Regions from separate parts of the Homo sapiens genome. Here region 1 is linked to region 2. Evidence: fine-mapped expression QTL. A gene starts in region 2. The other region holds a variant in brackets. All regions are shown on one strand. Distances are between the middles of the regions.

Region 1 (15,574 bases), 95 kb before region 2:
AGGAGACCGTGGATAAACTACATGACTGGCCTGGTGAAGGACCAGCACCACCTTATATGCTCCCAAATCAACCACAAGCCAGGATGGCAGGCCCAGCCTTCCATCAGAAGTAACCAGGCTGAGGCTCTCCCTTTCTTGCTTATTCCTGGCATCTCATTTTCTGTGTGCTTACAACACAGCTCAAATTTTATGGGTAGCAAAGTACCACTAGCTACTATTAATTTAGGCTTGGTGATGAGACAGAGTAAAGCTATAATCATGGCATCAGAAAAGTTAGATCAGAACTGAAAAGGCTTCTGTGTGATGATACATATTACTTTAAAATTATACTCAAAGAAAACTTACAGATAGGTTTGGCAATATGCCAAGGGGTATCCAAAATGCTCTGAAACAGACTTACTAAGGTTTATTTTCATCCTAAAATGGCCATTAGGGGAACGAGTAGCCAACATAAACAATTCCCCTTGCTCTTGCCAGGTCAACCTGGCTAATACTGATAAGTCTCTCTGTGGATCTTGTAGCATCCTGATCTTCAGAGAGGTGCCAGAAATAGAGGCTTCCATCCTTCTCACCTGTCCAGAGGCATTTTACTTGAGCCCACGCTGTTTTGTGCGTGCAGACCACAGACCTTATGATGAAACTGCTGCAGCTGCTGTGCCAGGTCTGAGAGGGCAAAGTCCTTATTTCCTCTCACTAAATCCTTAATACAAGGTTCATAAGCCCCACCTTCTATGTGAATATATGCACATTATTCTAATGATGGCACAAGTTCATATTTACTATATCATTCAATTAAAGAAAAAAAAGACAACAGAAATTGAATCACAGAGGTACAAGCTATCAAAAAGAGACTGCTTACTAAATAGCCATATGGAATAGAAAGCACTGTATCTAAAAACCAACAAAAAGAAACACACAGGCGAGATCGTAGGCAGAAGTCTTAGCTAGATTGCATTTTAGTTGACCCACAATTCAATCATCCCAGAGGTTTACAGGTTAATTCCTTCATAGCAACTACACACAAAGGTATTGTGAAATATCCCCCAGAGGATTCTGTAACTCAGAAGAAAATGCGTGACACTGAAACTCCACACACATCATCAATAATTAAAATCCACGTTCCTCAGATGTTAGGTTTTAAGAGGAAAAGTACCTGACAAACTATTCTCTTAGCTGATTCTTATGTGAGTGTGTGTGCCAAGGGGACAAAGAGGAGGAGAAGTCTTTGCACAATGTTGGGACCTGATTAGGTAGAGGTGGAGAAAGTGACCAGAAAAGCAAAGAAACCAGCAGCTTGTATAATGTTATGGTCTTATTTTAAGAAGTAACAGTGTGCATCCATTATATTTATAACTTAAAATTTTATTACAAATTGTATGTATACTTAGTGTTTTTAAAATAGACTAAGAACCAGAATTTATTGGGATTCCTCACTGGGCTTGAGAACCCATTCCAGATGAGTGGCAGAAAGGGACTCAATATATTTAAAAGAACATTAGCTGGGGCCAGACGTGGTGACTCATGCCTGTAATCCTAGCACTTTGGAAGGCAGAGGCAGAGGTGGGCGGATCACTTGAGGCCAGGAGTTCGAGACCAGCCTGGCCAACATGGTGAAACCCCATCTCTACTAAAAATACAAAAATTAGCCGGCTGTGGTGGTGCGTGCCTGTAATCCCAGCTACTTGGGAGGCTGAGGCGGGAGAATCACTTGAACCCACAGGGCAGAGGTTGCAGTGAGCCAAGATCATGCCACTGTACTCCAGCCTGGGTGACAGAGCTTTACTCTGTCTCAAAAAAAAAAAAAAAAAAAAAGAAAAAGAAAAAGAAAAAAAGAATGTTAGCTGAATGTGGTGGCTCACGCCTGTAATCCCAGCTGCTCAGGAGACTGAGACAGGAGGATCACTTGAGCCCAGGAGTTCGAGGCCAGACTTGGCAGCATAGCAAGACCTCCATCTCAAAAAAAAAAAAAAATTAGAATTAAAAATGTTAGAGCTCTTGGCTGGGGTTTAGAAGACCAGGGCTTCAGTTGTAGTTTTGTCATTAATGAGCTGTGTGACTTTGGGCAGATCACCTGATATTTCTGGGCCTCAGCTCACTCTTCAATAAAATCAGGAAGTAGAGAAACCTGATTGCCAGTGCTTCCCTCCCAGCTCTAACATTCTGATACAACAAATCAGAATCTCAAACTTGACACACTCAGTCACGCTGAAATATATTTATAGCTGTGCCTTTAAGCAAACAAAAGAGAGTTTCTAAGATTCTCCCTGTATCTGATAAACCACCAGCAGCAGGGGTAGGAAAGTTGGCTCATTTCTGGACCTGAAGCCCACTGTTCTGTCAGCTTTCCCAGGTGGCGAGAGGCTCCTGGGTAAGAAAGGGTAGGAAGAATGCCCAGCAGGACATGCGTTTGTAGTTTTACACAGACACGCAAAAATTTATAAGCTCACTAGCATAACAAAAGCTTTACTTTTTATAAGAAGATCCCACTGTTATCAAGACATGTGCTTTGAACTCTCTCTAGGCAAGTATTTTGACCAATTCAACCTTTTTACTCCATTTTTGTCTCGTGTACATGTATACATGTGTACGTCTGTGGGTGTGTGTGTGTGTGTGTGTGTGTGTGTGTGTGTGTGTATGGAAGATAATACATGTTATATGGCTGACAGGTTGGTGGTATCATTAAAAGGAGACAGGGAAGTTAAGAAGCGGGAGAGGAGTGAGATAATCTTAAGTGCTGACTTGTTAAAATTGAATCTGAGAACCAATAAGAAATCCAGAGACCGTCTGGTCCAGGCTCTGTTTTCTATTGGGTTTGGGGTGACCAAAGGTCACAGAGGCAACATGTTCAGAAGGCAGTTGTGAATGTGGGGCTTGAATTTAGGAGTAAGTCAGAGCTGCAGGTGAGGGCTGAGGCCAGAAGTGACAGCTAAGCGGGAACAACGAATCTTGGGAAACAGAAGCAGAAGATGGTGGGAAGTTCAAGGACTAAGGCTTGAGGAAGACTGTCACTAGAACATGAGAGGACAATGCTGGAAGACAGGGGACAGCAAAGAGACGCAAAACAGAGTGGACAAGTCTATAAAGGTGGCTGCCAATATGAGAAGTAGGACATGGAAGAAAGAGACATTTTCTCCTTTAAAGATTTATTGGAAACAAGGCCAAGCACAGTGGCTTGTGCCTATAATCCCAGCACTTTGGGAGGCCAAGGCGGGAGGATCACTTGAGGCCAGGAGTTCAAGACCAGCCTGGGCAACATAGTGAGACCCCATCTCTAAAAAAAAAAAAAAATTAGCCAGGTGTGTCAGCACATGCCTGTAGTCCCAGCTACTTGGGAGGCTGAGGTGGGAGGATCACCTGAGCCCAGGAGGTCGAGGCTGCAGTGAGCTAAGATTGTACCACCACACTCCAGCCTGGGTGACAGAGCAAGATCTTATTTTTTTAAAAAAAGACTTATGGGAAACAAAACACCAGCACAATTCATTGATCCTGCATACACTAATGACCAGACAGGGTACTCTTTATTTTTGTACCCAGTACAGCCCACTGAGATTACATTTTGTATTTTAATATTATTACATCCTAGATCCAATTCATAGACTTCAAGTTTCAGGAGCTAGGTCATGAAGCTAGAGTGATTTGTCACAAACTCTAGCTTCTATTTGGATTTTATCAGGGATCAGATAGCCAGAGTCTAAAATGCAGATTGTCTAACAAGGTATAACAAATCACAGATGCTTTTGAAAATATGAAAATGGCTTTGAATAGCACTATGAAAAGTCAGAAATTCTAGCTTTGACTGTGGGTCTATTACAGTCTCTTCATATGTGTAGTGAAACAACTAATCATTTCATAGGAAATGGCTCCAGGCATGCTGTAAGTCCAGCAAACAATACTTCCTTCTCTAAGTTGCAACCACTAGCTTACACCAGTCATGTTGCATATCTGTGTCTTAGTTCATCATCTACAAAGTGGCAGGACTAGCCCCAGGGCCCTTCCAGTGCTAGAGTTACTTGTTTCTTTGAATTGCCCAGTGGTCCTCAGAGGGGCAAATATCAAATTCAACTGTTAGCTCAGATGCCAAAGACTGGTCAACAGCATTCACCAAGGGGCTGCACCTGCTGGGCTCTGTACTCATCCTGGGGAGTTTAGCTGGAGGGTGGCTCAAGGAGGTGGCTGGCTAGAGACTGAATACTCTCTAATGTCCTGTGGGCCCATGAAGTGGTAAAAATGGACCCATATGGTGACAGTATTTTCAGAATTAAAAACAGAATCTGAACACGGTAAAGATCTTTGAAATTGGCCTGTCACAGAAAATCAGGGCTATACAGCTGCTAAAATAATAATAAATGCCACCTTGTTAAGAGAGCCTTTTACTACTTGAATAACTAAACTCCTTCAAATGAGGCCCACACAGCTCTACCTTATACTTAATTCCATTATTCAACAAATAGAGTCACAGAAAATTCCTGAACATGTTATTAGGTACTCTGTATATCACACTGGGAAAAGAGAAAAAAATGGTCAGCCCTATTGAATTGGTTTCTCATTTCTTTTATATTACCCTAAAAGCTTACAGACTTAGGTTTCTTCTCCCTTAAAAACTAAATTCCCCAAAAAGGCCCAGAAGCAAAAAGAAAAGAAAGAATTTAACTGCACACATATCCGTACATTGAGAAATGTTCTATTACATCAGAGAAGAATGTTAAGGGTAGCTTATTCTGAGCCTCTTGGCATTATTTTTTCTTTATAAGCATTGTTGAGTTCTCCTAGCAAATGTTTAAAACAGGACTTAGGTTTTTGATCTATACTAATAGTGAAGGTCTTATTTCAACTTTGAGAGTCCAAGAGCATGTGAAAGGAAGAAGCAAGCAAACCAGAGGTTAAGACTATATGAATATAGCTCATACCTCTGGTTTCATGATGACCCAGATATATAAATAGACATCATATAGGTAAATGCCTATTAGGAATTGGGGCCAGCAAAGCCACTTACCAGGAGATTTATGTACTTAGAAATCTGCACCAGCTGTAGTGGCTAAAGTGACAGAAGCTTAATGTTTGGGGGATTCCCTGTATGCCCCACCTCCTTTATCTTTTGGCACAGTTGAATACACACTAAGGCCGTGTGAGTGCCAGGAGCACTAACAGTCTTAGCGCCATTAGCAGATAGCCAACCACCAGTGAAAGAAGAGTTACGGCAAGAAACCCCTTCCCTTGCTTCCATTCCTCAGGTAACCAGCACTGTGAAAAGACGGATCAAATTCTACACTAATAAGATACTTTTTAAAAAGATCATGTCAGAATAAGCTTATAAACAAGAGCCACATATTAATGTGTGTTGACAGAATGTTTGTACTGACTACACATTTGTTCTGCCCTGTATTAATTGTATTAATACATCAAGATTTTAAGAGTCATGTGGGGAAGGAATAAATCCTTTCCTCCTTTATATCCACCAAAGCCTCAGCCATACCTCGTACCTGATTTTCCAAGACAACATGCTGTTCAAATATTCTGTCCTAATATCCATCAAACAGAATCAGCTCAATAAATACAGAATGAATCTTAGTGACGAGCTCTTCTTCAAATTCAGCTCCCTTTTATTGGCTGTGTCCTCGTGAATTTTGGATGGGAATGAATCTGGAAAAACGAATCGTAACAATTTTTCCATAAATGCCAATCTGACAGTGGCACACTTCTTTCTCATAATTATGTTGAACCTATTTGGCTTTCCTGGAGTTCCATTATTTTCAAAAGGGAGAATCTTCTTTGCATAATTTATATATAGGATTATCATCTTCAAAATACTGAAACCAAAACCATAGTCCTAATAAATACTTTATACACAGGAAGAAGCTAGAACTCAGATGGCAAAAAAGTCACTGAATTCCCACGCTTTATGTGGCTATGCATTGATGGGGTGTGATGAGGTGGGTTGGTCTGAAGAACTCATGCCTCCTTTCAGGTGAAACTGGAGCCAATAAGACATAATGTTAGAAGAGGACCTACTATTAAATGTGGAAAAACCTGGAAAAGAAAGCATGTATGCAGTGTTCAAGAGCAAGATTCTCATATAAATAGTAAGGTAGGATTCTCCTTTCAATGATCCTAACTTTCTCCTGAGGTGATTTAAGGAAAAAAAAAACTTAAAAACTGGTATTAGTGACTTAATTAGCTTTCCTTTCAACACTCATATGTCCACACTGCATATATATATATGGTACTGCTACTAAATGCAATGTACAGGGAAAATTCAGATGTCTAATATTGACAGAGTACTATGAAAAAAATAACTTTAAGGTAATAGTAATATGTTTTTGGCCCCCCTAAAAATCAGACATTTTGGAAAAGCACAAAGAGGACACTTCACCACTTCTACCACTACCACCCTAGGCCAAGCCTCCATCTCCCCTTGCATCCACCCTTGCCCCCATTCTCTATTCAACACAGCAGTTGAGATGATCCTGCTGAAACCTAAGTCCAATAATACGTGACTTTGCTCAAAATCCTCCCACAACATTTCATCTCTCAGAGAGAAAGTCAATGTTCTTATCCTGGCCTGCAAGGTCCTACTTGACCTGCAGCCCCCACTGGTTCACTCTGCTGCAGCCTCACAGGCCTCTGTGTTCACCCTCAAAACTCTTGGCATGCTCTTGCCTCAGAGATTTCACACTTGCTCTTCCTTCTGCCTGGAATTCCAAGATCTCTCATTTCAGGTCTCTGCTCCTCCATGAGCCCTTCCCTGATGACCGTATTTGAAACCAGAATTCCACTCCCCCACGGGGCTCCTGCTTTATCTTTCGCCACTGCACCTATCACCTTTGTATACTATTTACCTTACTCACTTTGTCTGTCTACCAAAATGAATGTTAAGTTCTGTGAGGGCAGGATTTTTGTCCTATTCATCCTATTCATGGGTGTATCCCCAGGGCCAATACAAATGCCGGCTCACAGGAGGGGCTTAGTTAAATATTTGCTAACTGACCAAATACAAGACAGCAGGCAGGTAAGTAAGTATGAGCTTTGGAGGCATAAAGTCTATTCTCACTAGCACTGCATCAAGGAGGCTAAATGGTGGGCCTGACTACTGTAAGGCCCTGGCAGTTGCACTCAGATAAAAACCTGTGCTTTAGCCAATTGCTTCTAATCCAGCACATTGCTTCATAAATGTCTGCTTTTGGCCACAAGGGGGACTAAATGAGAAAGCATGGGAATAGTTCCTTCTAATCCATCACCACTAATAGAAAAGTAATTTGAAGCTCTAATATCCTATAACTCTATGAGGTCTGTAGCTGATGGTTAGGAGCCAAGATAATGAACAGCATTTAAGTAAGATTTCCCTGTCTCTTAAAAAATGTACAACTGAGGTGCTTACTATCTGTGTGCCCTGTACTATGCTAAGTGCTTTAATGCTTTATCTGGCTCAATCTTCTTAATAACCCTATGAAACGTGCCCAAGGTCATCGCCACTAAATGGCAGAACAGTTACTCAAAGCCCTGACCCTCCACTACTGCTTTCCTTTAATGTCCTCTTTAGCCTGTCTGTAGAAGGTTCTTTCTCCTCAACCCTTTACTCCTAACTCTTCCATAAGAGGAGTTCATAAGCCAGCATCGTCCATCCTGGCACTGATTTTTCCTTGAATCAACCCTGAGAATTTGGCTGCCATAATTAAAAATAAATAAGATCTATAGGCATGGCCAATAATTCATTTATTTTAAAAGGCTATCCATTAGCATTAGGAGATATACCTAATGTAAATGACGAGTTAATGGGTGCAGCACACCAACATGGCACATGTATACATATGTAACAAACCTGCACGTTGTGCACATGTACCCTAGAACTTAAAGTATAATAAAAAAAATAATAAAAGGCTATGCATTATTCCCCTCCTTCAAGCAGGTAAATCTATAGAAATGAAAGCATGTTCCACTCCAAGCTATAGTTTGATACTTTAAAAGCCAGTATGGGAAATAAATATCTTCATGTGTATGTCGACGTGAACCAGAAATGTTCAATATCATTAGCACCAGGAACAAACCTATGGGAGGACTGATCTGAAGAATCAATAAAGCTTGACAAACACATGGAAAACTGTAGTGTCTTGAGTATTGGTTTTCCACCAAGCACATTCTAGAACGAAAGCTTAAGAAACTTAAGTACTCTGGTTTTGGCCCTGAGAAGAGAAACAAGAGGCCACAGGTGCAACATATATGAGAAGAACCCACTCTGAAACTGTGGAATTGCCTTTCAAAGTAGCTCTAACCAAAAGTGATGGGCTGAGTCACGAGATAAGGCAACCGCAT[C/T]GTATCTGCTCACCCCACAGCCTGGGAGGGGGATTTGATTGGCTGTTCATGAACGAAGGGCACAGTCTGGAAACAGAGTTAACCATGTATGTGTGTGATAAACGACATTTATTGAGCAGTACCGTGCTCCTTATACGCTTCATCACATTTATTCTTAATCTCTGTTTTGCAGATGAAAACCTGAGGCTTTCGGTTGTTGACTTTCAGCAACGTGCTCAAAGTCACAAAGCAAATAAGTGGTATAGCCCGGAGTCCAATCAATTTCTGTCCAACTCGAAGGCAGTTTTCTTGGCCATTATTATATTCTGCCTCTTGCGGCAGTGTAAGTAACAGCAGTCAAGGCCAAGGGCTGAGTTCCTCTGTCCAATATTACCCAGTCACTGACCCTCTCGTCTAGGTAGGTGAACGCTAAAGAGAAGCCTGGTTTTCTTTATACTGCCTAAGGGCTTCCTACGAGTGAGCTGTGAGGAAACCAGTACCCTGAACCAATTTCCACAGCGAGGTTTCTTGGGCAGTTTCTAATTGTCAATAGCCAGGAAACATGGGTAAACGCAGAGTGGGAAGAAACGGACTCTACAGACTGACCCTGGGGGCACTGGCCTTTTCCCTTCTCCTTTCCTGGGACGGGCCTCCCGTGCCCCTTATTGGGCATACTCCATTTTATGAACTGGGCTGTGTTCTGGATTATTTATACATTACTTGTTTGAAACTCAAAATGTATTTTCTTTGAGAAACCATGTTATACCTGGTGGCTTGTTTCTAGGCCAGTCCTCAAAAATCTATATTTAAGCCAGTATTAGGGAAAGTTATAGGGAAACAGATTTTTGGCTCATTACAAGGAAGAACTTTCTAATAATAGGCACTGCCCAAAATGGAGTGGGTTGCCTTGGGAGGTGTTACAACAGAAGGTAAACAGCTTTCTGGGCAGCCCCATAGAGACTCTGGATGCAACCATGGGACAGAAGTCCTATGACTGGGAACCCAGCAGGAAGGCCTAAGTTACACTGTTTCTCAAAACCTGTTCTCATTCTGACTATTGTCCCAGAAGACTTGTGCTAGCTAATTGGCTAGCCTTTGCTAGCCAATTATCTCCCTGGATTTTCATACATGGATGAATAGGAGCATTAACAGCACAGGAATTGGGGAAACCATTTTCCCAGATCTGGAGTTTCATTTCCTTTGATCTTCAAAGGAAGCGATAGGTCATACAATTTTGACACATTAAGAGCAAGAGAAAAGCCTGTTCAGTGTAATGGGGCTGCAATGAAAATGAGCTGTGTTCTTTAAAAGAGGATATGGCACTGGAAGGAGTATTTGCCTTATTATTTTAATTCTTCTATTTTCCATAAGCAAATACACTCTACATCACTTAGAGTCAGAAATCCTGGATGACTTTAAGAATCAGTGAAGCTGGTTAAAGATAAATTTACAAAAACTATAGTTGCAACCTTCATACTTTTCACATATAGACAAGGATTCTGTCAAAAACCTGACATATATTGGAACTAAAAAGAGGAAGTATCTAATAAGGTGCTATTAGTAATGGTATATTGCACCAGAGATCTATTCCTATAGAAAATTACATAGCTCGTTACATGGCTATGGGGGCAAATACAACTACACTTTGGACCCTGAGGCAACACAACCATCAAGCTTGCTCCTGCAGGATACATGCAGGGCTCTACCTGCTCAGCCCTCCTGCCCCATCGCTGCTCAGCCAGGTCCTACCTGCCTTTCAAAGCACAACGAAGATGTCCTTTCACCAAGAGGCCTTTCCTGACACTCAAAGACAATAATCATTTCATCCTCTTCTAAATGTGCTTAAGATTTTCCACATACCTCTTATGACTGACTTCTTTTTGGGGGGATGGAGTCTCGCTCTGTCGCCCAGGCTGGAGTGCAGTGGTGTGATCTCAGCTCACTGCAAGCTTCGGCTCCCGGGTTCATGCCATTCTCCTGCCTCAGCCTCCCGAGTAGCTGGGATTATAGGCGCCCGCCACCACGCCCGGCTAATTTTTTGTATTTTTAGTAGAGACGGAGTTTCACCATGTTGGCCAGGCCGGTCTCGATCTCCTGACCTCATGATCCACCCGCCTCGGCCTCCCAAAGTGCTGGGATTACAGGCGTGAGCCACCGCATCCGGCCATTACTGACATTTTTACCTTGTATTCTAAGACTTTGGGTACACCTTATCTGCATCCCCAGTCATCTGCTCCCTGAAAAAGAGATGAGTCCCTCATGGGATTGTTATTAACTATATATATATATATATATATATGTAATCACATTTCTGATAATGAAATATGACTAGAAAGAGTGCTTTGTTTGCAAATAGCTCTCATCAAGGACACATTAACAGGGCATTTTTCTTTGGTTTCTGAGGTTGCTAAGAGGGCATGAGATGGGAGAGGTTGGGCAGGGATCCTTACATGTAAAAACGGCTAGAGAGATGCAATAGTCAAGTCTGGAAACAGCATCAGAAGCTGTTGCATTCCTTCCATGTTGTGCTTAGAAATAAATATGACTGTTGTGGTCTTAGACAAATGAGAAGTCCAGAAAAGTATAACCTGGTAATCAGGTCCCTCAACTCAAAGACCAGTGATATAAGCCTCTTCCTTCCCCAAGAGTCACCAAAACAACTTATTTTAGAAAGCTAAGGCTTCTCAGCAAGAAGCAGAAATCCTTCCCCTTTGACAGTGTCAGCTGAAAGTGACTGGCCCAGTGACCACTCTTTAAAGCTGCATTGAAGGGCCAGAATGGTTGAGTCCTACCTGTGCTCCACACAAGTTATGGCCAAGGACATGCTTTCCTGGGCACAGGAAAGCCCCTGGCTCTTACCACATGTCTTCACTCACAGCCAAGGGCTGTCTGAAGCCCTGGCACACACTGTGAGTGACTGTGACCAAGGACTGCACTGGCTTGCTGGCAGGATGGACCAGCAGGCACCATGGCTATATTCTGACCTCTTACATCAATTGATATTATTTTTAGTAAACCATTCTCTCAACTCATTTTGCCTCGCATTATTCAAACGTAAAGTATCTTAACCACAAATCATGTGGCTACTAGCAAGAGATGATACAAGCCACCTTGAGCAAGGGGCTTCCTGAGGGCCATGGGCATCCTGTAGGGAAGCACAAGCCGCTGGCACTTCCTGGGACAGGAAGCCAAAGGAGCTACCCTTCCCTATAGTCAGGGCTCTGGGATGTACTTCTCTTGCACATCAGCTGCATTCTTCTCTATCTATGCACACTGGCTCTCTCTGTCCAAAAGCCTCCCATTAGAGCATTCCCAATTCAAACATCCAACAGAGACTGATGAGCAGCCTTGAACACAAATTTCAAATTCATGGAAGAGAGAATCTGAGGGGCCTGTCTCAGGTCAGGTGACCTCCCGGAAGCCATCAGCTGTGATGAGGGCAAGGCCATGTCCCAATGCCCCATCTTATCAGCAAGTGCTAGGAGAACAGATGGTCAGAAAAGGCTGTGAGCCGGGCAACCCACAGATTAACATGCCTGTCACTGCGAGACTTGGCTATCCCTTTCCTCCTGAAATAAAGGATAGGGACTGTGAAGCAGCCTATGTGTTCAGCCTGACTTTAAACACTGCATCCTGTACAGCATCAGAAAACTGTGGTGATAGACCTATTAACAGCACAACCCTTTGCCCTGAACGGACCCTGGGGAAACCCAACTCGGGTAGCCACAAGCAGCCTGTACCAGCGAGAGAACAGAATCCCTGGTTGGCTAACCAGGGGGCCTACAAGGAGGGTGCAATACTGGCAATTCTCAGGAGGCCAGGCCCTTCCCTCAGCTCCTCCCAAAAGTGTGGCTTAGGTCCTTGACCACATAAGGCTACATGCCAAGTGACTTCAAATAAATGAAGACACTATCTTGAAGGAATTGGCTTGTTGCCAAACTCACCATACTCTATGGACCATTCAAAGTAGGTCTCTCTTAAATGATCCAATGGCATTGGCAGGATCCTTTGGATATCCTTTCACCATCACTGAGCCTCTCACCACACCTCTTGAACCACCACCCCCCTTCTGACTTGTGAGCTCAGCAAGTGGCTAACATTACTGCAGCAGGGACTCTTCCCATGCAAGAATGAGGGCTTGGCGGTCATCAGAAATGTGTCAGTGTGGACAATACAGCATACGAAGAGGTGTCACACTGTGTCACAATCTGTTAACATACTCATTTGGGGTGAAGAAAGGGCCTAAGGACCAAGCATATATAAAATAAGTGCCTTCCAAAATGCTAGAGGGTATAATAAAAATAAATGTTTAAAAAGTAAATAATATAGTAAATAAAAAAGCAAGCACATTTGGGATTACACCAGGGACCCTCCTTACCTAACAGGAATAACATAATATTGGCATCTGTTACTTCTTTTTTTTTTTTTTTTTGAGACAGAGTTTTGCTCTTGCCCAGGCTGGAGTACAATGGTGTGATCTCAGCTTACTGCAACCTCCACCTCCCGGGCTCAAGTGAGTCTCCTGCCTCATCCTCCAGAGTAGCTGGGATTACAGGCTTATGCCACCATGCCTGGCTAAAGTTAAAATGCAGATGCCTGGCTGGGTGTGGTGACTCCCGCCTGTAATCCCAGCACTTTGGGAGGTTGAGGTGGGAGGACTGTTTAAGGCCAGGAGTTTGAGACCAGCCTGGACAACACAGCGAGACCCTGTCACGATGACAAAAATTTAAAAAATTAGCCAGGCATGGTGGCCCACACCTGTAGTCCTAGCTACTCCAAGGGTGAGGCAGGAGAATCACTTGAGCCCAGGAGTTTGAGGCTACAGTGAGCCATAATTGTGCCATGGCACTCCAGCCTGGGCAACAGAGCAAGATCCCAACTATAAGTAATAAATAAAATGTAAATGGCTCAACTAAGCTACAGCAATAGAAATCCTAAAAGTGACTGTCCATGAAGGGGTCAGGAATAATAGGAGGGGACACATGTAGTGATGCAAATAATCTTTATTTTGATTGGAGTGTATTGTGAGGGAGAACCTCAAAACACAAGCAGAAAAAGAATAAGTGAAAAAATGTTATTATATAATCATTAGAGACAGTAGGAGGAAGAAAAATGGCTCTTGGATTTTATGCAACAAGTGAAATTAAAATATCCTCTAACATTTGTAAGCTGCTTTACAGTTTATAAAGTATATTCATTCATAAAATTCCATTTAGTATTCATAATAATCCCATGAGGCTCACATAATCAGCATACCCATTTCAAGATAAGAATGCAGGCTCAGAGAAAGCTAAGTAGTGCCCCATGTCCCACAGTCTGTTAGGGACCAAGACAAAGCAAAAACCCAATGTCCTTAATCATAGGCCAAGTCATTTTGACTACACCATGCCAGGAACTTTTATAAGTTAGTTTTCTTGGTTACTTGGTATAGTTAATTGTATTTTGTGTATCTGACTTGTGCTCAACCTGGTTCTCTACACTGTAAGCTCCCCTGAACAATGAATTTATTAACATTATCCAAACGTATAGCAACCAGAGTTGACAAGCTGCCGGAACCACAGGACTCAATCTGTGACTAACATTCAGCATCTTGGACTCTTCCATAATCAAACCATGAGAATAAGGACTAAACATCAAAGGGCTAAAAGAAAGCCTGTTCAGTCAATGCTGCCACAATTATGTTGCTTTGCAGATTACAGTTTCAATTTGTCTTGAAACTTCACAAATGTCCATCTTGTCCTCTTAATAGCATGCAAACAATTGAGGTTAGGGACCAAATCATTGTGTTTTACATTTCCAGGAGCACCCAATATGGTGTCCTAAATTTAGTACACACTCAATAAATGCTTATTTTATAGTATGTTTGGTACCTTCTAGAAAGTAATAGTGTTAAAAATAGAATTCTGTGACACAAAATTTTGTATCACAGACAAGGCTGGGCACGGTGGCTTATGCCTGTAATCCCAGGACTTTGGGAGGCCGAGGCAGGCGGATGACCTGAGGTCAGGAGTTCGAGACCAGCCTGGCCAACATGGTAAAGCCCCATCTCTACCAAAAATATTTCAGTAAAACTCAGGACAAATGTACCATGAGGGTTTATGTATTAACTGCATGTGTTCTATCCCTTTAATCCAAGTGGGGGAATAATTTTACAGAGCTTAACTGAAGGATTTTAACTAGCAAAACCAACCAGTAGAAGCTTCTGTGTTAAAAGAGTAGTAAGCATAATTTTTTTAAAGTATGCATTTCTGGGTGAATGTAATTAGAAGAAAATCTATAGGCAGCACAGCCCTCTCCAAACTTTGATGCCTATTTTCTCCCCTAGTGTACCCCTCATTCTCACTGAAAGTCAGATGGCTTTCAGGCTGAGTTATCTTAAAAGATACACATTAGCACTGTTCTTCCTAAGTGGAACACTGGGAAATTTAAGCTCTGACCTCAGTGAGGGACCGTGAACTGAGACAATCTGTTTTCCCGTGGCCACTGGTCTCTGGCAATATGAAGACACAAATGTCCCAGAAGTACAGATAAAAGCAATGAAGTACATAATTGCACCTGTGCTTGCACATTCTCGTTCTTAAAGGCAGAATTTTAAAATAAATATTATCCCCAAATTCTATCACCTTAATGCAATTTTTGAAATTTGGGGACATTCCACTCCACATGAATGCATATAATTACAGCATGTAAATTACACATCATCATTCACTTGAACAAGGAAGTAATTAGAGCTTCTCAACTTTTGGTAAGCATAAAATACCTGATGCCCTCCTTTAAGATTATCTGGCATTTCACAAGTTCTTCCAAGCAATGGTAATTGCGAACGCACTTTCTCCAACTACATACACCTCCCTCCTTTGGTTTCTGACATGCCCCTGCTAAGAACCCCTGTTTTACGTGCATTCACTGCTCCTAATATTTCTACTCTATTCCACTGCCACTTCAGGGAGAGTAAAAACAAACACTACCTTCACAAAATCCCACAGCTACACACATTAATATTTGTAGGAGCCAACCCTGCAACAAAATTTACTTACCAAAGCCATAGCCACATCCTGTCTGCCACAAAATCCTGCAGCCTTTTCTTTCTTTTATGAACATGTAATACAAAAGATATTATAGAAAAGCTCTATGGTATTGGATCTATACTTTTTGCCAGATTACTTTTTCCAGAGTTTTAATGTATTTACAGGTTTTTTTTTTATAGAAAGTACACCAACTATTACTAGTTTAAAAACCAGAGTTTTAAGTCTGTTTGACCAATAAGTCTGGAATTTATCAGGTCAGT
Region 2 (15,574 bases):
TTCTGGACAAAAAAAAAAATTGTTTTAAATTATTTTTCCAGAAAAGATTAGTGATGTTTCTCAAATGAAAAACAAATCGCTGATATTTTATCATAGAAGAATTTGATAGCACTATTGATAAGCTAATTACCTCCTTAGATAATCAAGAAATCAGGCCCAATATACACTTGAATTAAGCAAGGGGAACTTCTCTTCACACATGGTGGATTTAAATCTTAGCTTAGAACTCAGATGAGTATTTAAAATACATTAAAAATGTATAAATAAAACAAAAATTCACCTGGTAAGCAAAATATTTATTACATTTCTTTGCTTGATCTTGAAACAGTTACATTGGTTGTGAAGAAAGGATATTTTGTTATATATATATAGGGCAAGATCTTTTTTATTCATGCTTAAAAAATTCTAATTAAAAATTTAAATAACCAAAATGTCTGACAAACTAACTGATCACAAAAATATAATGATTGAACTATCATTAGGATAAGCAAGTCCTTGTGAAATCTGCTATTCCATCTTTTCACATATTTATTGGAGGAGCACATTTAAATCACTACAGGTAGACTAGAAATAACATTGTTTTAAAAAAACTTTCCCATTGAGGTGAGTTGAAATAAATAACTGAGCCCAAGAGTAGTCAATAAAATTTCATTTATTCATTAATTCATTCATTCATTAAGGAAATAAGTATTTAGTGAGTAAACCTACTATAAGCCTGACATTGTTTGCTAGTCTTTAAAGCACAGGATAACTTACTCCTAGGTGTGTTTTTCCCTCCTCTTCTATAGACCTGAAAATAAAACATACAAATCAGGAGAAATGAAGGATCAGTTTACACAGCATTCAGGTGATATTATTTAACCAAAAGACAAATCATCCCATCCATTCAAACACAATTATATAAAGAGGTACCTACCTTTTGTCTTCAAATAATTATATAGTACACAATAGAGAATGTTTTTCTTCTCACGTGATTGTGTTGCGCATGCTCTGCTACGGTGGTTCCAAACACCAATAAATATACAGTTTTGCATAACGCTCCATTTTTTCTTCACAGGACTTACTGCTATGTAAGTCCAGTAGTGCAGAGGTTGGTTACACTGTTGACATTTTGAGCAAGGCAATTCTTTGTTGTGAGGGGTTGTCTCATGTACTGTAGGATGTTTAGCAGCATCTGTGGCCTCTACCCACGAAAGGCCAGTATCATCCTCCCCTCCAGCTATGGCCAAAAATGTCTCCAGACATTGCCAAATATGGGAGGGGGGCAAAACTGCCCCCTTTTGAGAACCACCACTTTAGAGAAACACCTCAGAGAGAGAGTGTGATTATAGACAGGAGAGAAAGCCAGATAAAACAATAATCTCTCTTTCAAAAGTGTAGACTTCTGGTTTAACATATGCTCAAGTATGTCAACCTTTATGATGCTACTGCTCTACCACCATTTTAAGTTCAAATGCCTTCTAGTTCTAAATCTAAATTAAGGTAATGAAAGGGAAAAATTCCTATTAAAACAACTCACGAACACAAAGGAAATAATTCTGTCTAATCTTTCCTCCACCTTCCACTTTAAAGAACACCAAGGTCGGCTGGGTGTGGTGGCTCACGCCTGTAATCCCAGCACTTTGGGAGGCTGAGGCGGGCAGATCACGAGGTCAAGGGATCGAGACCATCCTGGCCCACATGGTGAAACCCCGTCTCTACTAAAAATACAAAAATTAGCCGGGCGTGGTGGCACACACCTGTAGTCCCAGCTACTCGGCAGGCTGAGGCAGGAGAATCACTTGAATCCAGGAGGCGGAGGTTGCAGTGAGCTGAGGTCACACCACTGCACTCCAGCCTGGGCAACACAGCGAGACTCTGCCTCGAACAAACAAACAAACAAACAAACAAGACCAGTAAGGTCATCTTTTTGTAAACTACCTAGCATAATCCCAGAAGTTTTGACAAATATTTGAGTACCTACTATGTGCCAGACATAGTTCTAAGTGCTGAAGAAAGATTTACCAACTGCATTTACTGAACTGAGAGATAATTCTTATAAACATTTAACAGGTAAATATTTGTGACCTTGGTTTTGGCAAAGGATTCTCAAATATGACACCAAAAGCATAAACAAAAAAAAAGAAAAAATAGGTAAGCTGGACTTCATAAAAATAAACTTTTGTACTTCAAAGGACACCATCTAAAGATAACCCACAAAATAGGAGAAAACACTTGTAAATCATGTATCTGATGAGGGACTTGTACTCAGAATATATAAAGGGCTCTTACTACTTAATATAAAAAAACCCCACATCTTAAGATGGTCAAAAGATATGAATAAATATTTCTTCAAGAAAGATACACAAATGACCAACAAGCACATAAAAAAGACACTCAGCATCATTACACATCAGGGAAATTCATACCAGAACCACAGTGAGATACCACCTTCACACCTACTAAGGCTATAATAAAAAAGTCAGGCAATAACAAATGTTGGCAAGGATGTGGAGAAATTGGAATCCTCATGGTCAAAGGGAAGGAGTGCTTTGCTTTGTGAAACAGGCTGGCAGTTCTTCAAACAATTAAACTTAGAATTACCATGTGACCTAGCAATTCAACTCCCAGGTACATACCCAATAGAAATGAAGACATGTTCACACAAAAATCTGTACATGAATGTTTATAGCACCATTATCCATGATAGCTAAATGACCCAATCAACTCAAATGTCCCCCAACAGACAAATGGATAAACAAAATGTGCTATAATCATTCAATGGAATATTATTCAACCATAAAAAGGAATGAAGTACTGATATACACTACAACATGGATGAACCTTGAAGTAATTATGCTGAGTGAAAAAAACAGTCACAAAAGGGCAACTATTGTATGATTACATTTATATGAAATGCCTGCAATATGGAAATCTCTAGAGACAGAAAGTAGTGGTTGCTTAGGGCTGGCAGGGGGTGGGCATGAGGGTGGGAAGTTGAAATTGGGGGGTAAACGGGATAACAGCTAAAGAAACAGGTTTCTTGTGAAATGATGCAATGTTCTAAAATTGACTGGGGTGATGGTTGCACATATCTATGAATATACTAAATATACAGAAATATATACCACTTATATACTAAAATATGTGCTACTTATACTAAAACTCACTGAATCGTATACTTTAAATAGGTGGCTTTTATGGCATATGAATCATGCCTCAATAAGGCTACTTAAAAATAACGTCTTGTTTAAAATATCCTCACACATCCGAAGAGATCTTATTCTTTTGGTTGTAAGTATGAAATGATTACAACAACCAAAGCCAGAACTGGCTTTGGTATTTAAACTATTGAAAATGTTCCAGGTTAACATTTAAGACTATGAAAATCTTGAAAGTAGAAAAAATTAAAATGAAGGCATCAAGGAACTTCCGGAGGACATAAAATGCAGTGATTGTTTAAGATGTATTGGGGGCATTAAGTAATTAGATTCATAGGGGTGGAATGTAAGCAAGGAGAGTTAAAGTGCTCATATGAAAAGCCTCAGCCTGGAAGACCCCCTTCTTTACCAGCTTGCAGTGATTCTGAAAGAACAATATTTCTTCATGTGCACTGTTAACCTTATTTTTAAGGAAGATAAAAATACCTCCCCCCTCCCAATATGATTCACTCCAGTAACAAATAGGAAGTCAAGTAAATGATAAAGGGCCAAACAAAAAGAGATTTAAGGAAACACATAAAAAGCTAAACCAGTTCCCAGGAATGGCTACTGGGAAGTTTCAGCAATCAGCATGTGTTACTGCTTTTTACAGGCAGAGCATAAGATGATATGATCTGTGCATAGCTCACAATTCCACTACTGAGACATTTCAACCTGTGTCGTTGTCAGTCCAAATAAAGTCCGTTTCTGTGTTTGCCTTGTGCAATATGCCAGTTAATCTATCCTAGCTCATTGCAGAGCTCCTGGTATGTGTGGTCTGGGGAGTCCATACCTTCCCTGACTTGAAGAACCACCAACGCCAGCGATAAGGAAATGTCCGGGTGCATTAGGAATATTTTTGATCCTCAATAAATCTCTGCTTCTTCCTTGACCATTGCAAACAGTCCGGTTTGCCATCTAGCTGATTCTCGGTACCTCATACAGCACTGTGCTCCAGTTTCAAAGCAAAAATAGGGCTAATATATGGTGGTGGGTGAGGGGCGGGGGTGAGGGGTGCAAGAAGAAAACAAGCAAAGGTTGAACTGGCTTTTCCTACAGAGCCTCAGATTTCAAAATGACTGCCGTAGAAGCTAAAATGACCCAGATTTGGGGGACAAGGGGGGAAGAGGGTCGATATTCATTCCCCTGCGGGGTAGCTGTAGCTTGATTATGGGCGTAAGGAACTAGGGAAGACGGGGTCACCGACATGAAAAGAGAAATAACAGGGAATGGTCTTTAAGTACCACGCACCTCTCTCAGTGAATCACTGCAGTGTCAGCCCTGCACTGATTCCATGATTTGCCAAACAGGATGAGGTAAGGCACAAGCCTGGAGCCCCCTCCTCCTCCTCCTCCTCCCCCTCCTCCTCCTCCCCCCTCCCCCGCGCAGAAAGGCGCATCCCTCCGCGAGGTGCACCACGCAGCCCCCCGCGGCCCTGGCTGAGGGGTGACGTCACCCTTCTGCATTGAGCTTCAAGGACCGGCGGCAGCACTGGATAGATGGGGAGTAGAGTTGGGGCGCTATCTCTATCACCAAGTGGAGGGGACCCTCTGCCAGGGCGCTGCGGATTGTGCTCATGCAGTGACAGAACCACCAGATAGGGAGTGTAAGGATGCAGGGAGGTGGGAAAGGAATCCAAAGACTCATCTCTTGGGTCACCAAGAAACCTCAAAGATGCCCCCGGCTTATGTAAGACCCTCTCCCTTTCGTGCGCCTCCACGCGGTGACAACGCCTGCTCCCCATCGTGCGCTTGGGAGACTTCGGTCGCCCTTGCCCAGCCAGGCAGGCACGGTGCTTCTGGTGCCTCCCTCCCGCAGCCCCGTGGGGTCAGGAATAACTGGGAATCTGAGATTAAACCCCACGCTCCCGTGTCCTCTCCTAGCCCGCCACAGGTTAGCTCCAAGAGGCGCCGCGAACCGGCTGGTAGGGGAAGGGAGAGAAAGGTGTACAGCGAGGAAAACAGACGAATAAACCCGCAACTTTCCCCAGGAGCTGACCCTATCCCGGGAGATTATAAAAGAAACTAATGCATTAACATTTTTTTTTTGGAAGGTCGACAACCTGCAGTCACCGACACTCCGCAGCCCCTTGCAGCCTGCGCGGAGCGAGGTCTAGGGTTCCAGCAGCCCCGACCCGCACCCTGCCATCCTGCAGCCCCGACCCAGCACCCCGCGCCTGTCTCCTTAAAGAGGGGTCCCAGATTTGATTTTTGGTTTGGGTTTTCCTCCCCACTTCTTTTCTCAGAGCATCATCATACGGACCGATGGACAGCGACTCGGCCACCGGCCCGGCGTGGGCACTTACCCAGAAGACGAAGGAGTAGATGATGAGGAGGGTTTTGAGACAGGTTATCACAGGTTTGGTCTCCATTCTCCTCGATGCCATACTACAGAGCTCCGGCGGCGGCGGCGGCGGCGGCAGGCGGCGGGCGGGCGCGCGGGAGGGGGAAGAGGCGGGGCGGGGCGGGGCGGCGCGGGGCGGGGGCGCGTGCCGCGAGAGGCCTCGTGAGCGCGCAGGCGAGGCCGTGCGCGTGCGTGAGCGCGCACCGCGCGGGGCTCCTACTGAAAAAGCCGGGCCGGGCAGTGACTGCGCATGCGGGAAACGCCGCCCGCGTTCGCAATACTGCGCAGGCTTAGACCCCCAGCGGAGGAGGGAGGCGAGGCCAGGCGAGGCCAGGCGAGGCGACACGGGGCGCGGCAGGACAGTGGGGAGGGAATGGGAGAATTTAGAGGCCGGGTCAGAGGTCACGGGAACCTCTCCCAGTCCGCCCTGGCATTTAGATTTCTGCTTTGTACACAGTTGGGCGTTACATTTGCAGGTATGCCTGCACCTGGCTATGGGAAGTTTATGGGTGCCCCGCTGCCCATCAGTCACGTTTCTGCATTTTGACACCCCCCAGGGCCTTCTCACATGGAAATGGCCCCGTAGTCATGTCCTTGGCAACCAGCAGGCCTTGTTTGTGCCAGGAACAGACAGGTGGCCAGAGATACAGCTGGAGGGATGGGCAGGAACGCCGGAGCTCAGACAGACCCCAAATCCTCGCCACCACAGGTATCTGCAGGCTCCTCCATTTTTCAGATTTGTCTTACATTTTGAAATAATAAAACGAAATGACAAGAAAGGTCTGTATGAGGCGTCATTCTTGCTGCGCATACAATGTTTAACAGAATACAGAAAAATGTTTAATATGCCTGAGAATCATTTGCAGCGCGCTAACAAGTACAGTCCACCTCCCTCCTGTAAAGGAAAGCTGCATTGAGGTCAAAAAATAATGTTCACAACCAATTTGGAGTTCCTCAAAAAGTTGAACAGAGTTTGCATATGATCTAGCAACTCCATTCCTGGGTATTTACCCAAGAGAAATGAAAATATATGCCCACACAAAACCATATACATGAATGTTTATAGCGGCATTATTCACAATAGCCAAAAATTGGAAACAACTCAAATATCCGTCAGCTGATGAGTGGATGACCAAAATTCGGTGCCTCCATACAACGGAAAATTATTCGGCCACAAAAAAGAATGAAGTACTACTGGTAAATGCTGCAACGTGGATGAACCTTGAAAATATGCTAAGCGAAAGACGCCAGACACAAAAGACCACATATTGAATGATTCATGTATAGGAAATATCCAAAATAGACAAATCCATAGAGACAAAAGAGATTAGTGGTTGCAGCGAGTGGGAGGCAGGAATGAGGTGACTTTTAATGGGTAAGCGGCTTCTTTTTAGAGTAATGAGAATGTTCTAGAATTACATAGTGATGATGGTTGCACAATACTGTGAATTACTAAAAACCACTGAGTTGTATACTTTAAGAGGATGACTTTTATGATATATTAATTATATCACAATAAAAACGTACATTCCACCCAGATATGGTTTGTAGAGGAACACACAGATTCAGTGGGAGATTTAGCTTGATTGCTAAGAGACTAGTCAAAAACAGCAACACTATCACAGGTTAACTCAATCGTGGATGATGATGTTAAGGATACATATTTGTGAAAGAGTGAAAAACAGAGTCAATAAGGCTTGGGAAAAGCCTGCTAAGGTCAGTTGTTACAGGAGTAATTATTACCTCTATCCAGTTATATGTGGTCTCAGGTCAATAAGGTAACTGTATGAACAGGACAAAAATATGAGGAAGAGGAGAACCTGTTTAAGGAAATTGTCAACTATAACAAAAAGGTATGTGGGCATACAAGGGTGGAATATAGGTGCAGGTGAAAGAAGGGACAGGTTGAGCAAGGTGTCTGTTATAAAGGGGTCTTGGCACACTGATTCTCGATGCTGGGTGCTCATTTGCATCACCTGGTGTTTTAAAACAATTATGAATGCCTGTGCCCAATCCCAGCTATTTGGAGTCATTTGGTGTGGGGTGAAAGCTCCGCGTTTTAGAAGCTCTTCAGGTGGTCTGAATATTAAGCAAGAGTTGAGGGGCATTGCCCCATACTGCAATGAACTTAAACCCAACTTCAGAGAGGAGCTTTCTCTTTCATTCTTACAGACTCCAGGCTGATTCCAACTGCTGCAGCAGCAGGGAAAGGATACTGAAGACTTCAAGCCCAGTGGGTATCCTTAGCATCAAAAGATCTTGGCCATGTATAATTATTTTGTAAAGAGGTCAGAAATCTCAATGTTCAGCCCAACAGTGACACTGCTAAGCATCATAGATAATTTGGTGAGTTAATATATGACATTCACAGAAGACACCCATCAGTTTAAGCTAACTCACCGTCTCACAGTTTGGAGCATTTTTGGAATATCTCTTAGGTCCAGATTCTTGAAAACTTGGACTGTTCTAGCAAAAATAAACCATTTAAATATAAAGATAAATATGAATATTCAGTAATGTAATTAGTAGATAAATTAACATAGCTTGTAGCTAGATCCTTGCTCTCCAATTGTGGCCCATGACATATATATAGGGTGACAAGCCATCCCAGTTTGCCCAGGACTGAGGGGTTTCCCTGCATTCAGGATTTTCATTGCTAAAACCAGGAAGGCCTTGCGCAAACCAGAACATATTAGTCACACTAACCCTGAGCTGGCAGCATTGACATCCACTGGAAGAGCTGTTTGAACATGCAGAACCTCAAGCCCCACTCCAAGCCCATGTTAACAAGATCTCCAGGGGAGTCAGATGCACAGTAATGTCTGTCATGTATTATGGATTGAATTGTGTCCTCCCAAAAGATATATTGAAGTCCAGGCTAGGTGCGGCTGAAGTCCTAACCCCAGTACCTCAGAATGTGATCTTATTTGGAAATAGGGTTGTTGCAAATATAATTAAGACAAGGTCATACTGGAGTAGTGGGGGCCCATAATCCAAGCACTTTTAAGGGCTCATATCCTTAAAAGAAGAGACACAGGGAGAGGGCCATAGGAAAACACAAAGACACACAGGGAGAAGGCCATTGTGACAACAGAAGTAGAGATCAGAGTGATGCAGCTACAAGCCAAAGACTGCCAAGGATTGATGGTCACCTCCAGAAGCTAGGAGGAGGCAAGGAAGGATTCTACCCAGAGTCTCAGAGAGAGGATGGCCCTGCTGACACTTTGATGTCAGACTCCTAGCCTCTAGAACTGTGAGATAATACATTTCTGTTTTTTTTAAAGCCACCCAGCTTGTGGTACTTTGTTACAGCAGCTGTAGGAAACTATCACGTGTCTAAGATTCACTGATCTATAATGCATCAATATATAATCACAGCTGCCATATCACCAAGCAACTCACAGTAGCACCATTTACAATAGCCAAAATATGAAAACAACCTAAATAAATGTCCAGTGACAAGTAGATTAATGAAATCTATTTTGTGGCATATCTACACTAGGGAATATTATTCAGCCATAAAAAGAGATGAAGTACTGATGCATGATACAACTTGGATGAACCTTGAAAACATTATGCTGAGCGAAAGCCAGATGCAGAAGGATGCATATGTATAATTCTATTTATATGAACTGTCCGTAATAGTCAAATCCATAGGCAGATTAGTGGTTGCCAAGGGCTAACCCTAATGGAGAGTCACCGTTTAATGGATATGGGGTTTATTCTTGTGGTGACGAATAAGTCCTGGAGCTAGATAGTGGTGATGGTTGTGCAACAGTGGGAATGTACTTAATGTTGAATTGTACACCTTAAAATAGGTAAAGTGGTAAATTGCATGTTATGTGTATTTTATAACACACAGAAATAATATGTAACCACAGCAAGTCCAAGTGTCCTGTGGCCTGAAGGAATGATGTAGGTTGCGGAGCTGAAGGAAGGTCAGCAAGGCTCAATAGCAGGAGGCAATGAAGGTATAGAGAAGGCTGGAGAGAGGCCAGCCCATCCAGGTCTTTTTAGGTGACATTAAGAATTTTAATCTTTTGCCTAAGAGTAAGAGAAGTGTTTGCTTTTTATTTGCTTCAAATTCAGCAAGTAGTTCAAGGAAAACTGGACTGCTACCAAAGCATCTACCTGGTCCCTCCTCCTACTGTTACCCCCTCTATCTCTTGTTCACACAACAACCAGAGTGATCTTGTTCAAACACAAACCATTTCATATCACTCTATGGCTTAAAATTATCTAGTGGCTTCTCATCGTTGCACTTGGAATCAAATTTTAACTCTTTGCCCTGACTTAGAAAGCATATATGAGGCCAGGCGTGGTGGCTCACGCCTGTAATCCCAGCATTTTGGGAGGCTGAGGCGGGTGGATTTCTTGAGCTCAGGAGTTCGAGATGAGCCTGGCCGACATGGCAAAACCCTGTCTCTACTAAAAATACAAAAATTAGCTGGGTGTGGGGGCATGTGCCTATAATCCTAGCTACTCAGGAGGCTGAGGCAGGAGAATTGCTTGAACCCAGGAGGCAGAGGTTGCAGTGAGCCAAGATCACACCATTGCACTCCAGCTTGGGCGACAGAGTGAGACTCTGTCTCAAAACAAACAAAACAACAACAACCACAAAAGCGTATATAAGCTGGCTCTGACTCTCTCTGCCACTACTCCCCCTTTGGATCTGTGCTTCAGCTGCTCTGGCCTTCTTTCTGTTCTTCAAACAAGTAGGCTTCATTCCACCTCAGAGCCTTCACATTGGCTGATCCTCTCTTTGGAATGCTTTGCCCCCTAAACTTTGAATGATTGGTCCCTTCCTTCCTGTCATTCAGATCTCGGTATAAATGTCACCTCCTCAGAGAGGCTATTTCAAACCAAAATAGCCACCCAGTCACTATACGTTCTAATTCTCTGCATAGCACTTATCTAACATTTTCTTATTTATGAAAATGTGCTTAGGTGTTTTTTTCTTTCCTGTGTCTCCTACTAAAATGTAAGTTCTACGGGGAAAGGTATTTCTGTCTGTTTTGTTCACTCTTATCTCCTTAGCACCTAGATACAGTAGAACTCAAAAACTTGTTGAACTAATGAATGGTGCACAGTAGTCCCTCAATAGATGATTGTTGACTAGTTGAATAGGGATATGATATTAGAAATGGGCCTTGAAGTATGAATACTATGATGGTGTTCTTTGAGGATTGGAGAAGGAGATCATTACAGGTTAGGAACAGTGTGAAAAAAGGCAGTTTGAACAAAAGCAGAAAGCTCGCTAAGAAAAGTGGCAAGGCACACTAGAACACTGCTATGGTTTCAATGCCCCCATCAAAATCATGCTGAAACGTATTCCCCAATGTAGCAGTATTGAGAAATGTGGCCTCTAAGAAGTGATTGGGTCATGAGGGCTCTGCAGTCATGAAGGGATTAATCCATTTATAGATTAATGAATTAATGGGTTAATGGATTAATGAGTTATAATGAGAGGGGAGCTGGTGGCTTTATAAGAAGAGGAAGAGAGACCTAAGCTAGCACATTAGCATGCTCAGCCCCCTCCCCATGTGATGTCCTGCACTGCCTCAGGACTCTGCAGAGTCCCCATCAGCAAGAAGGCCCTTATTAGATACAGCTCTGCAACCTTGGACTTCTCGGCCTCCATAACTGTAAGAAATAAATTCCTTTTCTTTATAAATTACTCAGTGTCAGGTATTCTATTATCAGCAAAATAAAACAAACTAATACAAGGACCTAGAGGAGGAAAAAATATGGAAATATAGGTTGGGCTGTGGTGGTAGAAGGCCTTGCTCAGGCCAAATTAGACTCACCAGTGTAGGCAGTAGGGAGCAGTGGAAGGTCTCTCAATAGGGGAGCTATGTGATCTGACCTGTGTTTTAGGAAAGTAACTTGGGAAGGAGTATGAAGGATGAGACGTTGCCAGAGAAAGAGACGAGAAACAGGAAAAGAGTTAGGAGGTAATTGCACTTGCCTAATTGGGAGTTGAGGGAGGGCTCCACCTAGGGATGTGGCAGTGGGGCTGGAGAGAAGGGGCTGGCCTGACCACTTCATCTCAACTCTGGCTATATGAAAATCCACTGGGGAGATTTTAGGTATGTGAATACCTGAGGTCTATCCCTCAGGGATTCTGACTGAATCAGTCTGTGGCAGGACCCCAACAATCAGTATTTTTTAAAAGCTTCCCAGATGTTCCAGCTTGGATTAAAACCTCTGGGACAGATAAACTGTTTGGAAATAGAATAGACAGCACTCAGGACTGAGTGGATCTGGGTGAGGAAAGAAAATATGACTGACTTTTTATTCTGAGTAAACTTGCAAGACAGCTTTTAAAACACACAACCCTGATAATATGTGGTATATCCAAACAGTGGACTAATATACAATTATTAGAAAGTATGTATATGAAGAGCATTTGTAGTCAAAAAGGAAAAGTTTTGTTATGAAGAAAAGGGCAAACAACAACAAAAAAGTATATGCAATATGACTTTAACTATGTAAAAACATATAGAAAAGAGTTTGGATGAAAATGTGTATAAAATTTTCACAGTGGTGCCTCTGGGAAGGAGGTTATAGGTGATTTTATTTTCTCTATTTTATATTTCCTCTATTTCTGAACATTTCTAAATGATCATATATTACATTTGTAATCAGAAAAGAATATTCTATAAAGGAAGCCTTCTACCCCAAAGATTAAAATATTAAAGTTTTAGGATTTAAGGGGGGGAACCCTGAACTATCTTGAAAACTTGCTGATATGAAATTTGAACATACCCCTGTTCATCTGTTTCTATATTTATGAATATATCTGAGTATTTCTAGGATCCCTACCTGAGCAGCCCAAATGACATTTTACCCTGGGATTCAGAAACATCTACAGGACTGAGACTAGACCTGTCAAGGGTATGTTTGCAAGTCACTCGACTGAAGATGGGAAAGAACTGAGCTTTGAAAACTTGGTTCAAGGAGCCTTGGTTAGCGTCAGAGGATTAGAACTGTTCTGAGGATAGCCCAATATTGGCATAAAATGAATGATGTGAGCCCTTACCTTTCCTCCATAGGGATTTACCCTGAGCCTTGGGGGTTAATGGGATGATTTTAACAAAGCCAGATTAGAAAAAAAGTTCATAAAGATATTGGGAGCACAAAGTTTTGTAGCCAATATAGCTTGCTTAACAAAAAATAGCAGGGACAAAAGGTACTGTTCTCATTTCAACAGAATGACAGTTGAATGGATCAGAACATGAGGTAGAAACATAAGAGACTCAGACAACTTCCCCAAAACAGAACAAATTAAAAAGCCAATGCCACTTAGTAACAGGACTACATTCGTGAGATTTTCAGTGGTAGCACTCAAGTGATAGCTAGGGAGACTGGGTTTGTAAATATAAGTGCCACCTCCCTTCACATTGGGTACTTCCTGAACATGGGACGAATTTGAGAGGGGTTAGAGTTCTTTAATTTGGTTTTGTTCCTTGACCCAGTAATTCCTTCTCTATGAATTGCCCTAGAAAGATAAATACATGTATAAAATATATCTGCAAGAATACTAATTGCAAAATTCATTATTGGAATAGTGAAAATGGAAAATATCTAAATATTCATCAATAATGTTTTGCCATATATTCGTTCATTCTACAAATTTTTTAAGTACCTACTATTTGCCAGACACTTTTCTTAGCACTGGGGATATAGCTGTGAGCCAAAAAAACAAGGCCCTTGTCCTAAGGGAGTTTGTACTCTACATGGGAAGACAAACGATAAAATAAATTTCAGTATATCCATGCTATAGAATTCAATGACGCAATTTTAAAATAGTAGATACATTTAACTGTATTAAAACTCAAGATCTACAAGGCAAAACACATTATACATAATTTTTAACTTCTAAGTTAGAGAAGAGAATTATAATATCCTACTTCAGTGATTATAATCACAAAATACATTAGAGTGTTTATGGGAAAAAATCAGGATAAACATACATGACCATCTCTGTATGGTATTAAGAAGAAATTCTACCTCTGCAGGCGCTCACTTGATTTTATACAAGAATTATTTTTATAATAAAAATTAAAACATTTCTAAAATGTTGTGTATAGAGGCTACACCCTAAAAACACATTTTGAAAAAGTATTTTCAGGACCTTATAGTTATTCTGTGACTACTGTTATATAGAGCAATGCAAGTAAAATTTTTGTGTATTTCAAGGTACAAAAATTATAACTTAAGAATAATCTGCAGATCTCAACCAAATGGGAATATAATGTGAAGAAAACAATTTTTGAGGTCAACTATATAATTGTTGCTCCTCATGCACAGAACTCCAGTGTTCTTCCCTTTATAATGAACACAAATCTGCTCTTGGATGTCTAGAACAAAGTTACTTAGAGGTGCTCTGTTTTATGTATTACCTTTTTCTCACTGAGCTGAAGGAGAACATATCCCTTCTTAAATACCTCTCCTAGAAATTAAATATCATTGTCCACTGGATTCAGAAACTGTCCCACTGATGGCTTTGCTTTCCACGCTTATGTTGTGTCTCCACACAGGAGATCAGTTTAAAACATTATATTGTTGTGCAGCAATTTTTCACTTGGCTCCCAGTTATACTTTCAATGTTCTCTCTGTATCACAGGGAGCTAGAAACCCACAAACTACATTTTTCAGATTCCTTTCCTAATTAGCCTCCTGTTAGGTTTGCTATTGGGAAGCACTGGTGGAGAGACTATGAGGTGAGGAGAAAAATAAGCTTCTTTTTTCTGTCTCTGGAAATCCCTCCAGCAGTAATAGCAGCAGCAACAGTGACTATAGCAGCCATTTCTTTCCAAAACATCTGTGGCAGTTTTAACAGCATTAGTAAAGCTATGGCATCCTGTATTCCTACTCAGTGGGAGCAGCACCCCCAAAAGCAGCAGTGTTAGCATCACTCACAGATCAGCATTAAGTGATGGGTTGTGGGTCCCAGCTCAGGAGTAGTAGAGCTTTCTGGTCTCTAGGTAAAACATACTGTAATGAATTGTAAAACTAGCCAAAATTCTTTCTCTCCCTTTCCATGACCTTTTTCAATGTGACTTTGCAGCTCTTCCCATAAAAAGTAAAATTTATTTCTTCTCTCTCCGAATCTAGGCTGGCTTTATTCCTTACTTTGAACAATAGAAAACAGTGAAAATGACGTTGTGATAGTGCTAAGCTTAGGCCTCAAGGGGACTCACCATCTTCTCCTCACTCTTTTGGAACCCTATGATTGCCATGGGAATAATCCCAGATTAACCTGCTAGAGAATGAGAAACCATGTGCATCAGAGTCTAGCCAGCCCTCTTGTCTCCACTGATAACTCAAATATGTAAGGGAGCCCAGCCACAATCTGCAAAGTCAACCCAAAACCAGCAGGAAGGAGTTCAGCTGAGACCAGAGAACTACCCAGATGAGCCCAGCCTAAATTGCTGACCACAGAATTGTTTTTAAAATAAAACCAGTAAGTTTAAGGTGGTTTGTCACACAGCAATAGCTAACTGATACACACCTTTGTCCTTTGTGTTTTTTCAGTACTTTTTGTACCTTATAGCAAATTACTTTTTTTTTTTTGTGAGCAACAAGGCTGTTTATTTCACCTGGGTGCAGGTGGGCTGAGTCCGAAAAGAGTCAGCAAAAGGAGATAGGGGTGGGGCCATTTTATAGGATTTGGGTGGGTAGTGGAAAATTACAGTCAAAGGGGGTTTTTCTCTTGCAGGCAGGGGCAGGGGTCACAAGGTGCTCAGTGGGGGAGCTTCTGAGCCAGGAGAAGGAATTTCACAAGGTAATGTCATCAGTTAAGGCAGGAGCAGGCCATTTTCACTTCTTTTGTGATTCTTCAGTTACTTCAGGCCATCTGGATGTATACGTGCAGGCCACAGGGGATATGATCGCTTACCTTGGGCTCAGATGCCTGACATTCCTGTCTTCTTACATTAATAAGAAAACATAAAATAGTGTTGAAGTGTTCGGGCAGTGAAAATTTTGGTGGGGTGGTATGGAGAGATAATGGGCAATGTTTCTCAGGGCTGCTTCAAGCGGGATTA

Evidence for each region. PIP is the estimated chance that this variant, and not a neighbour inherited with it, causes the effect.
Region 1: its variant is fine-mapped to the expression of TSPAN7 in whole blood (TOPMed, PIP 0.96).

The regions. Positions count from the first base shown.
Region 1 is chrX:38,646,062-38,661,635 of GRCh38, reverse strand. The region is part of intron 1 of TSPAN7 (tetraspanin 7); the gene reads right to left. Among named protein-coding and RNA genes, the nearest start is that of TSPAN7, 92 kb to the right of the region's middle. RefSeq lists a silencer at 3,841-3,890. The variant C/T (reference allele first, on the strand shown) is at 8,308.
Region 2 is chrX:38,551,538-38,567,111 of GRCh38, reverse strand. TSPAN7 (tetraspanin 7) reads right to left here and starts at 5,570. Exons shown (of 8, transcript NM_004615.4): 1 at 5,485-5,570. The coding sequence starts at 5,565. RefSeq lists an enhancer at 4,969-5,470.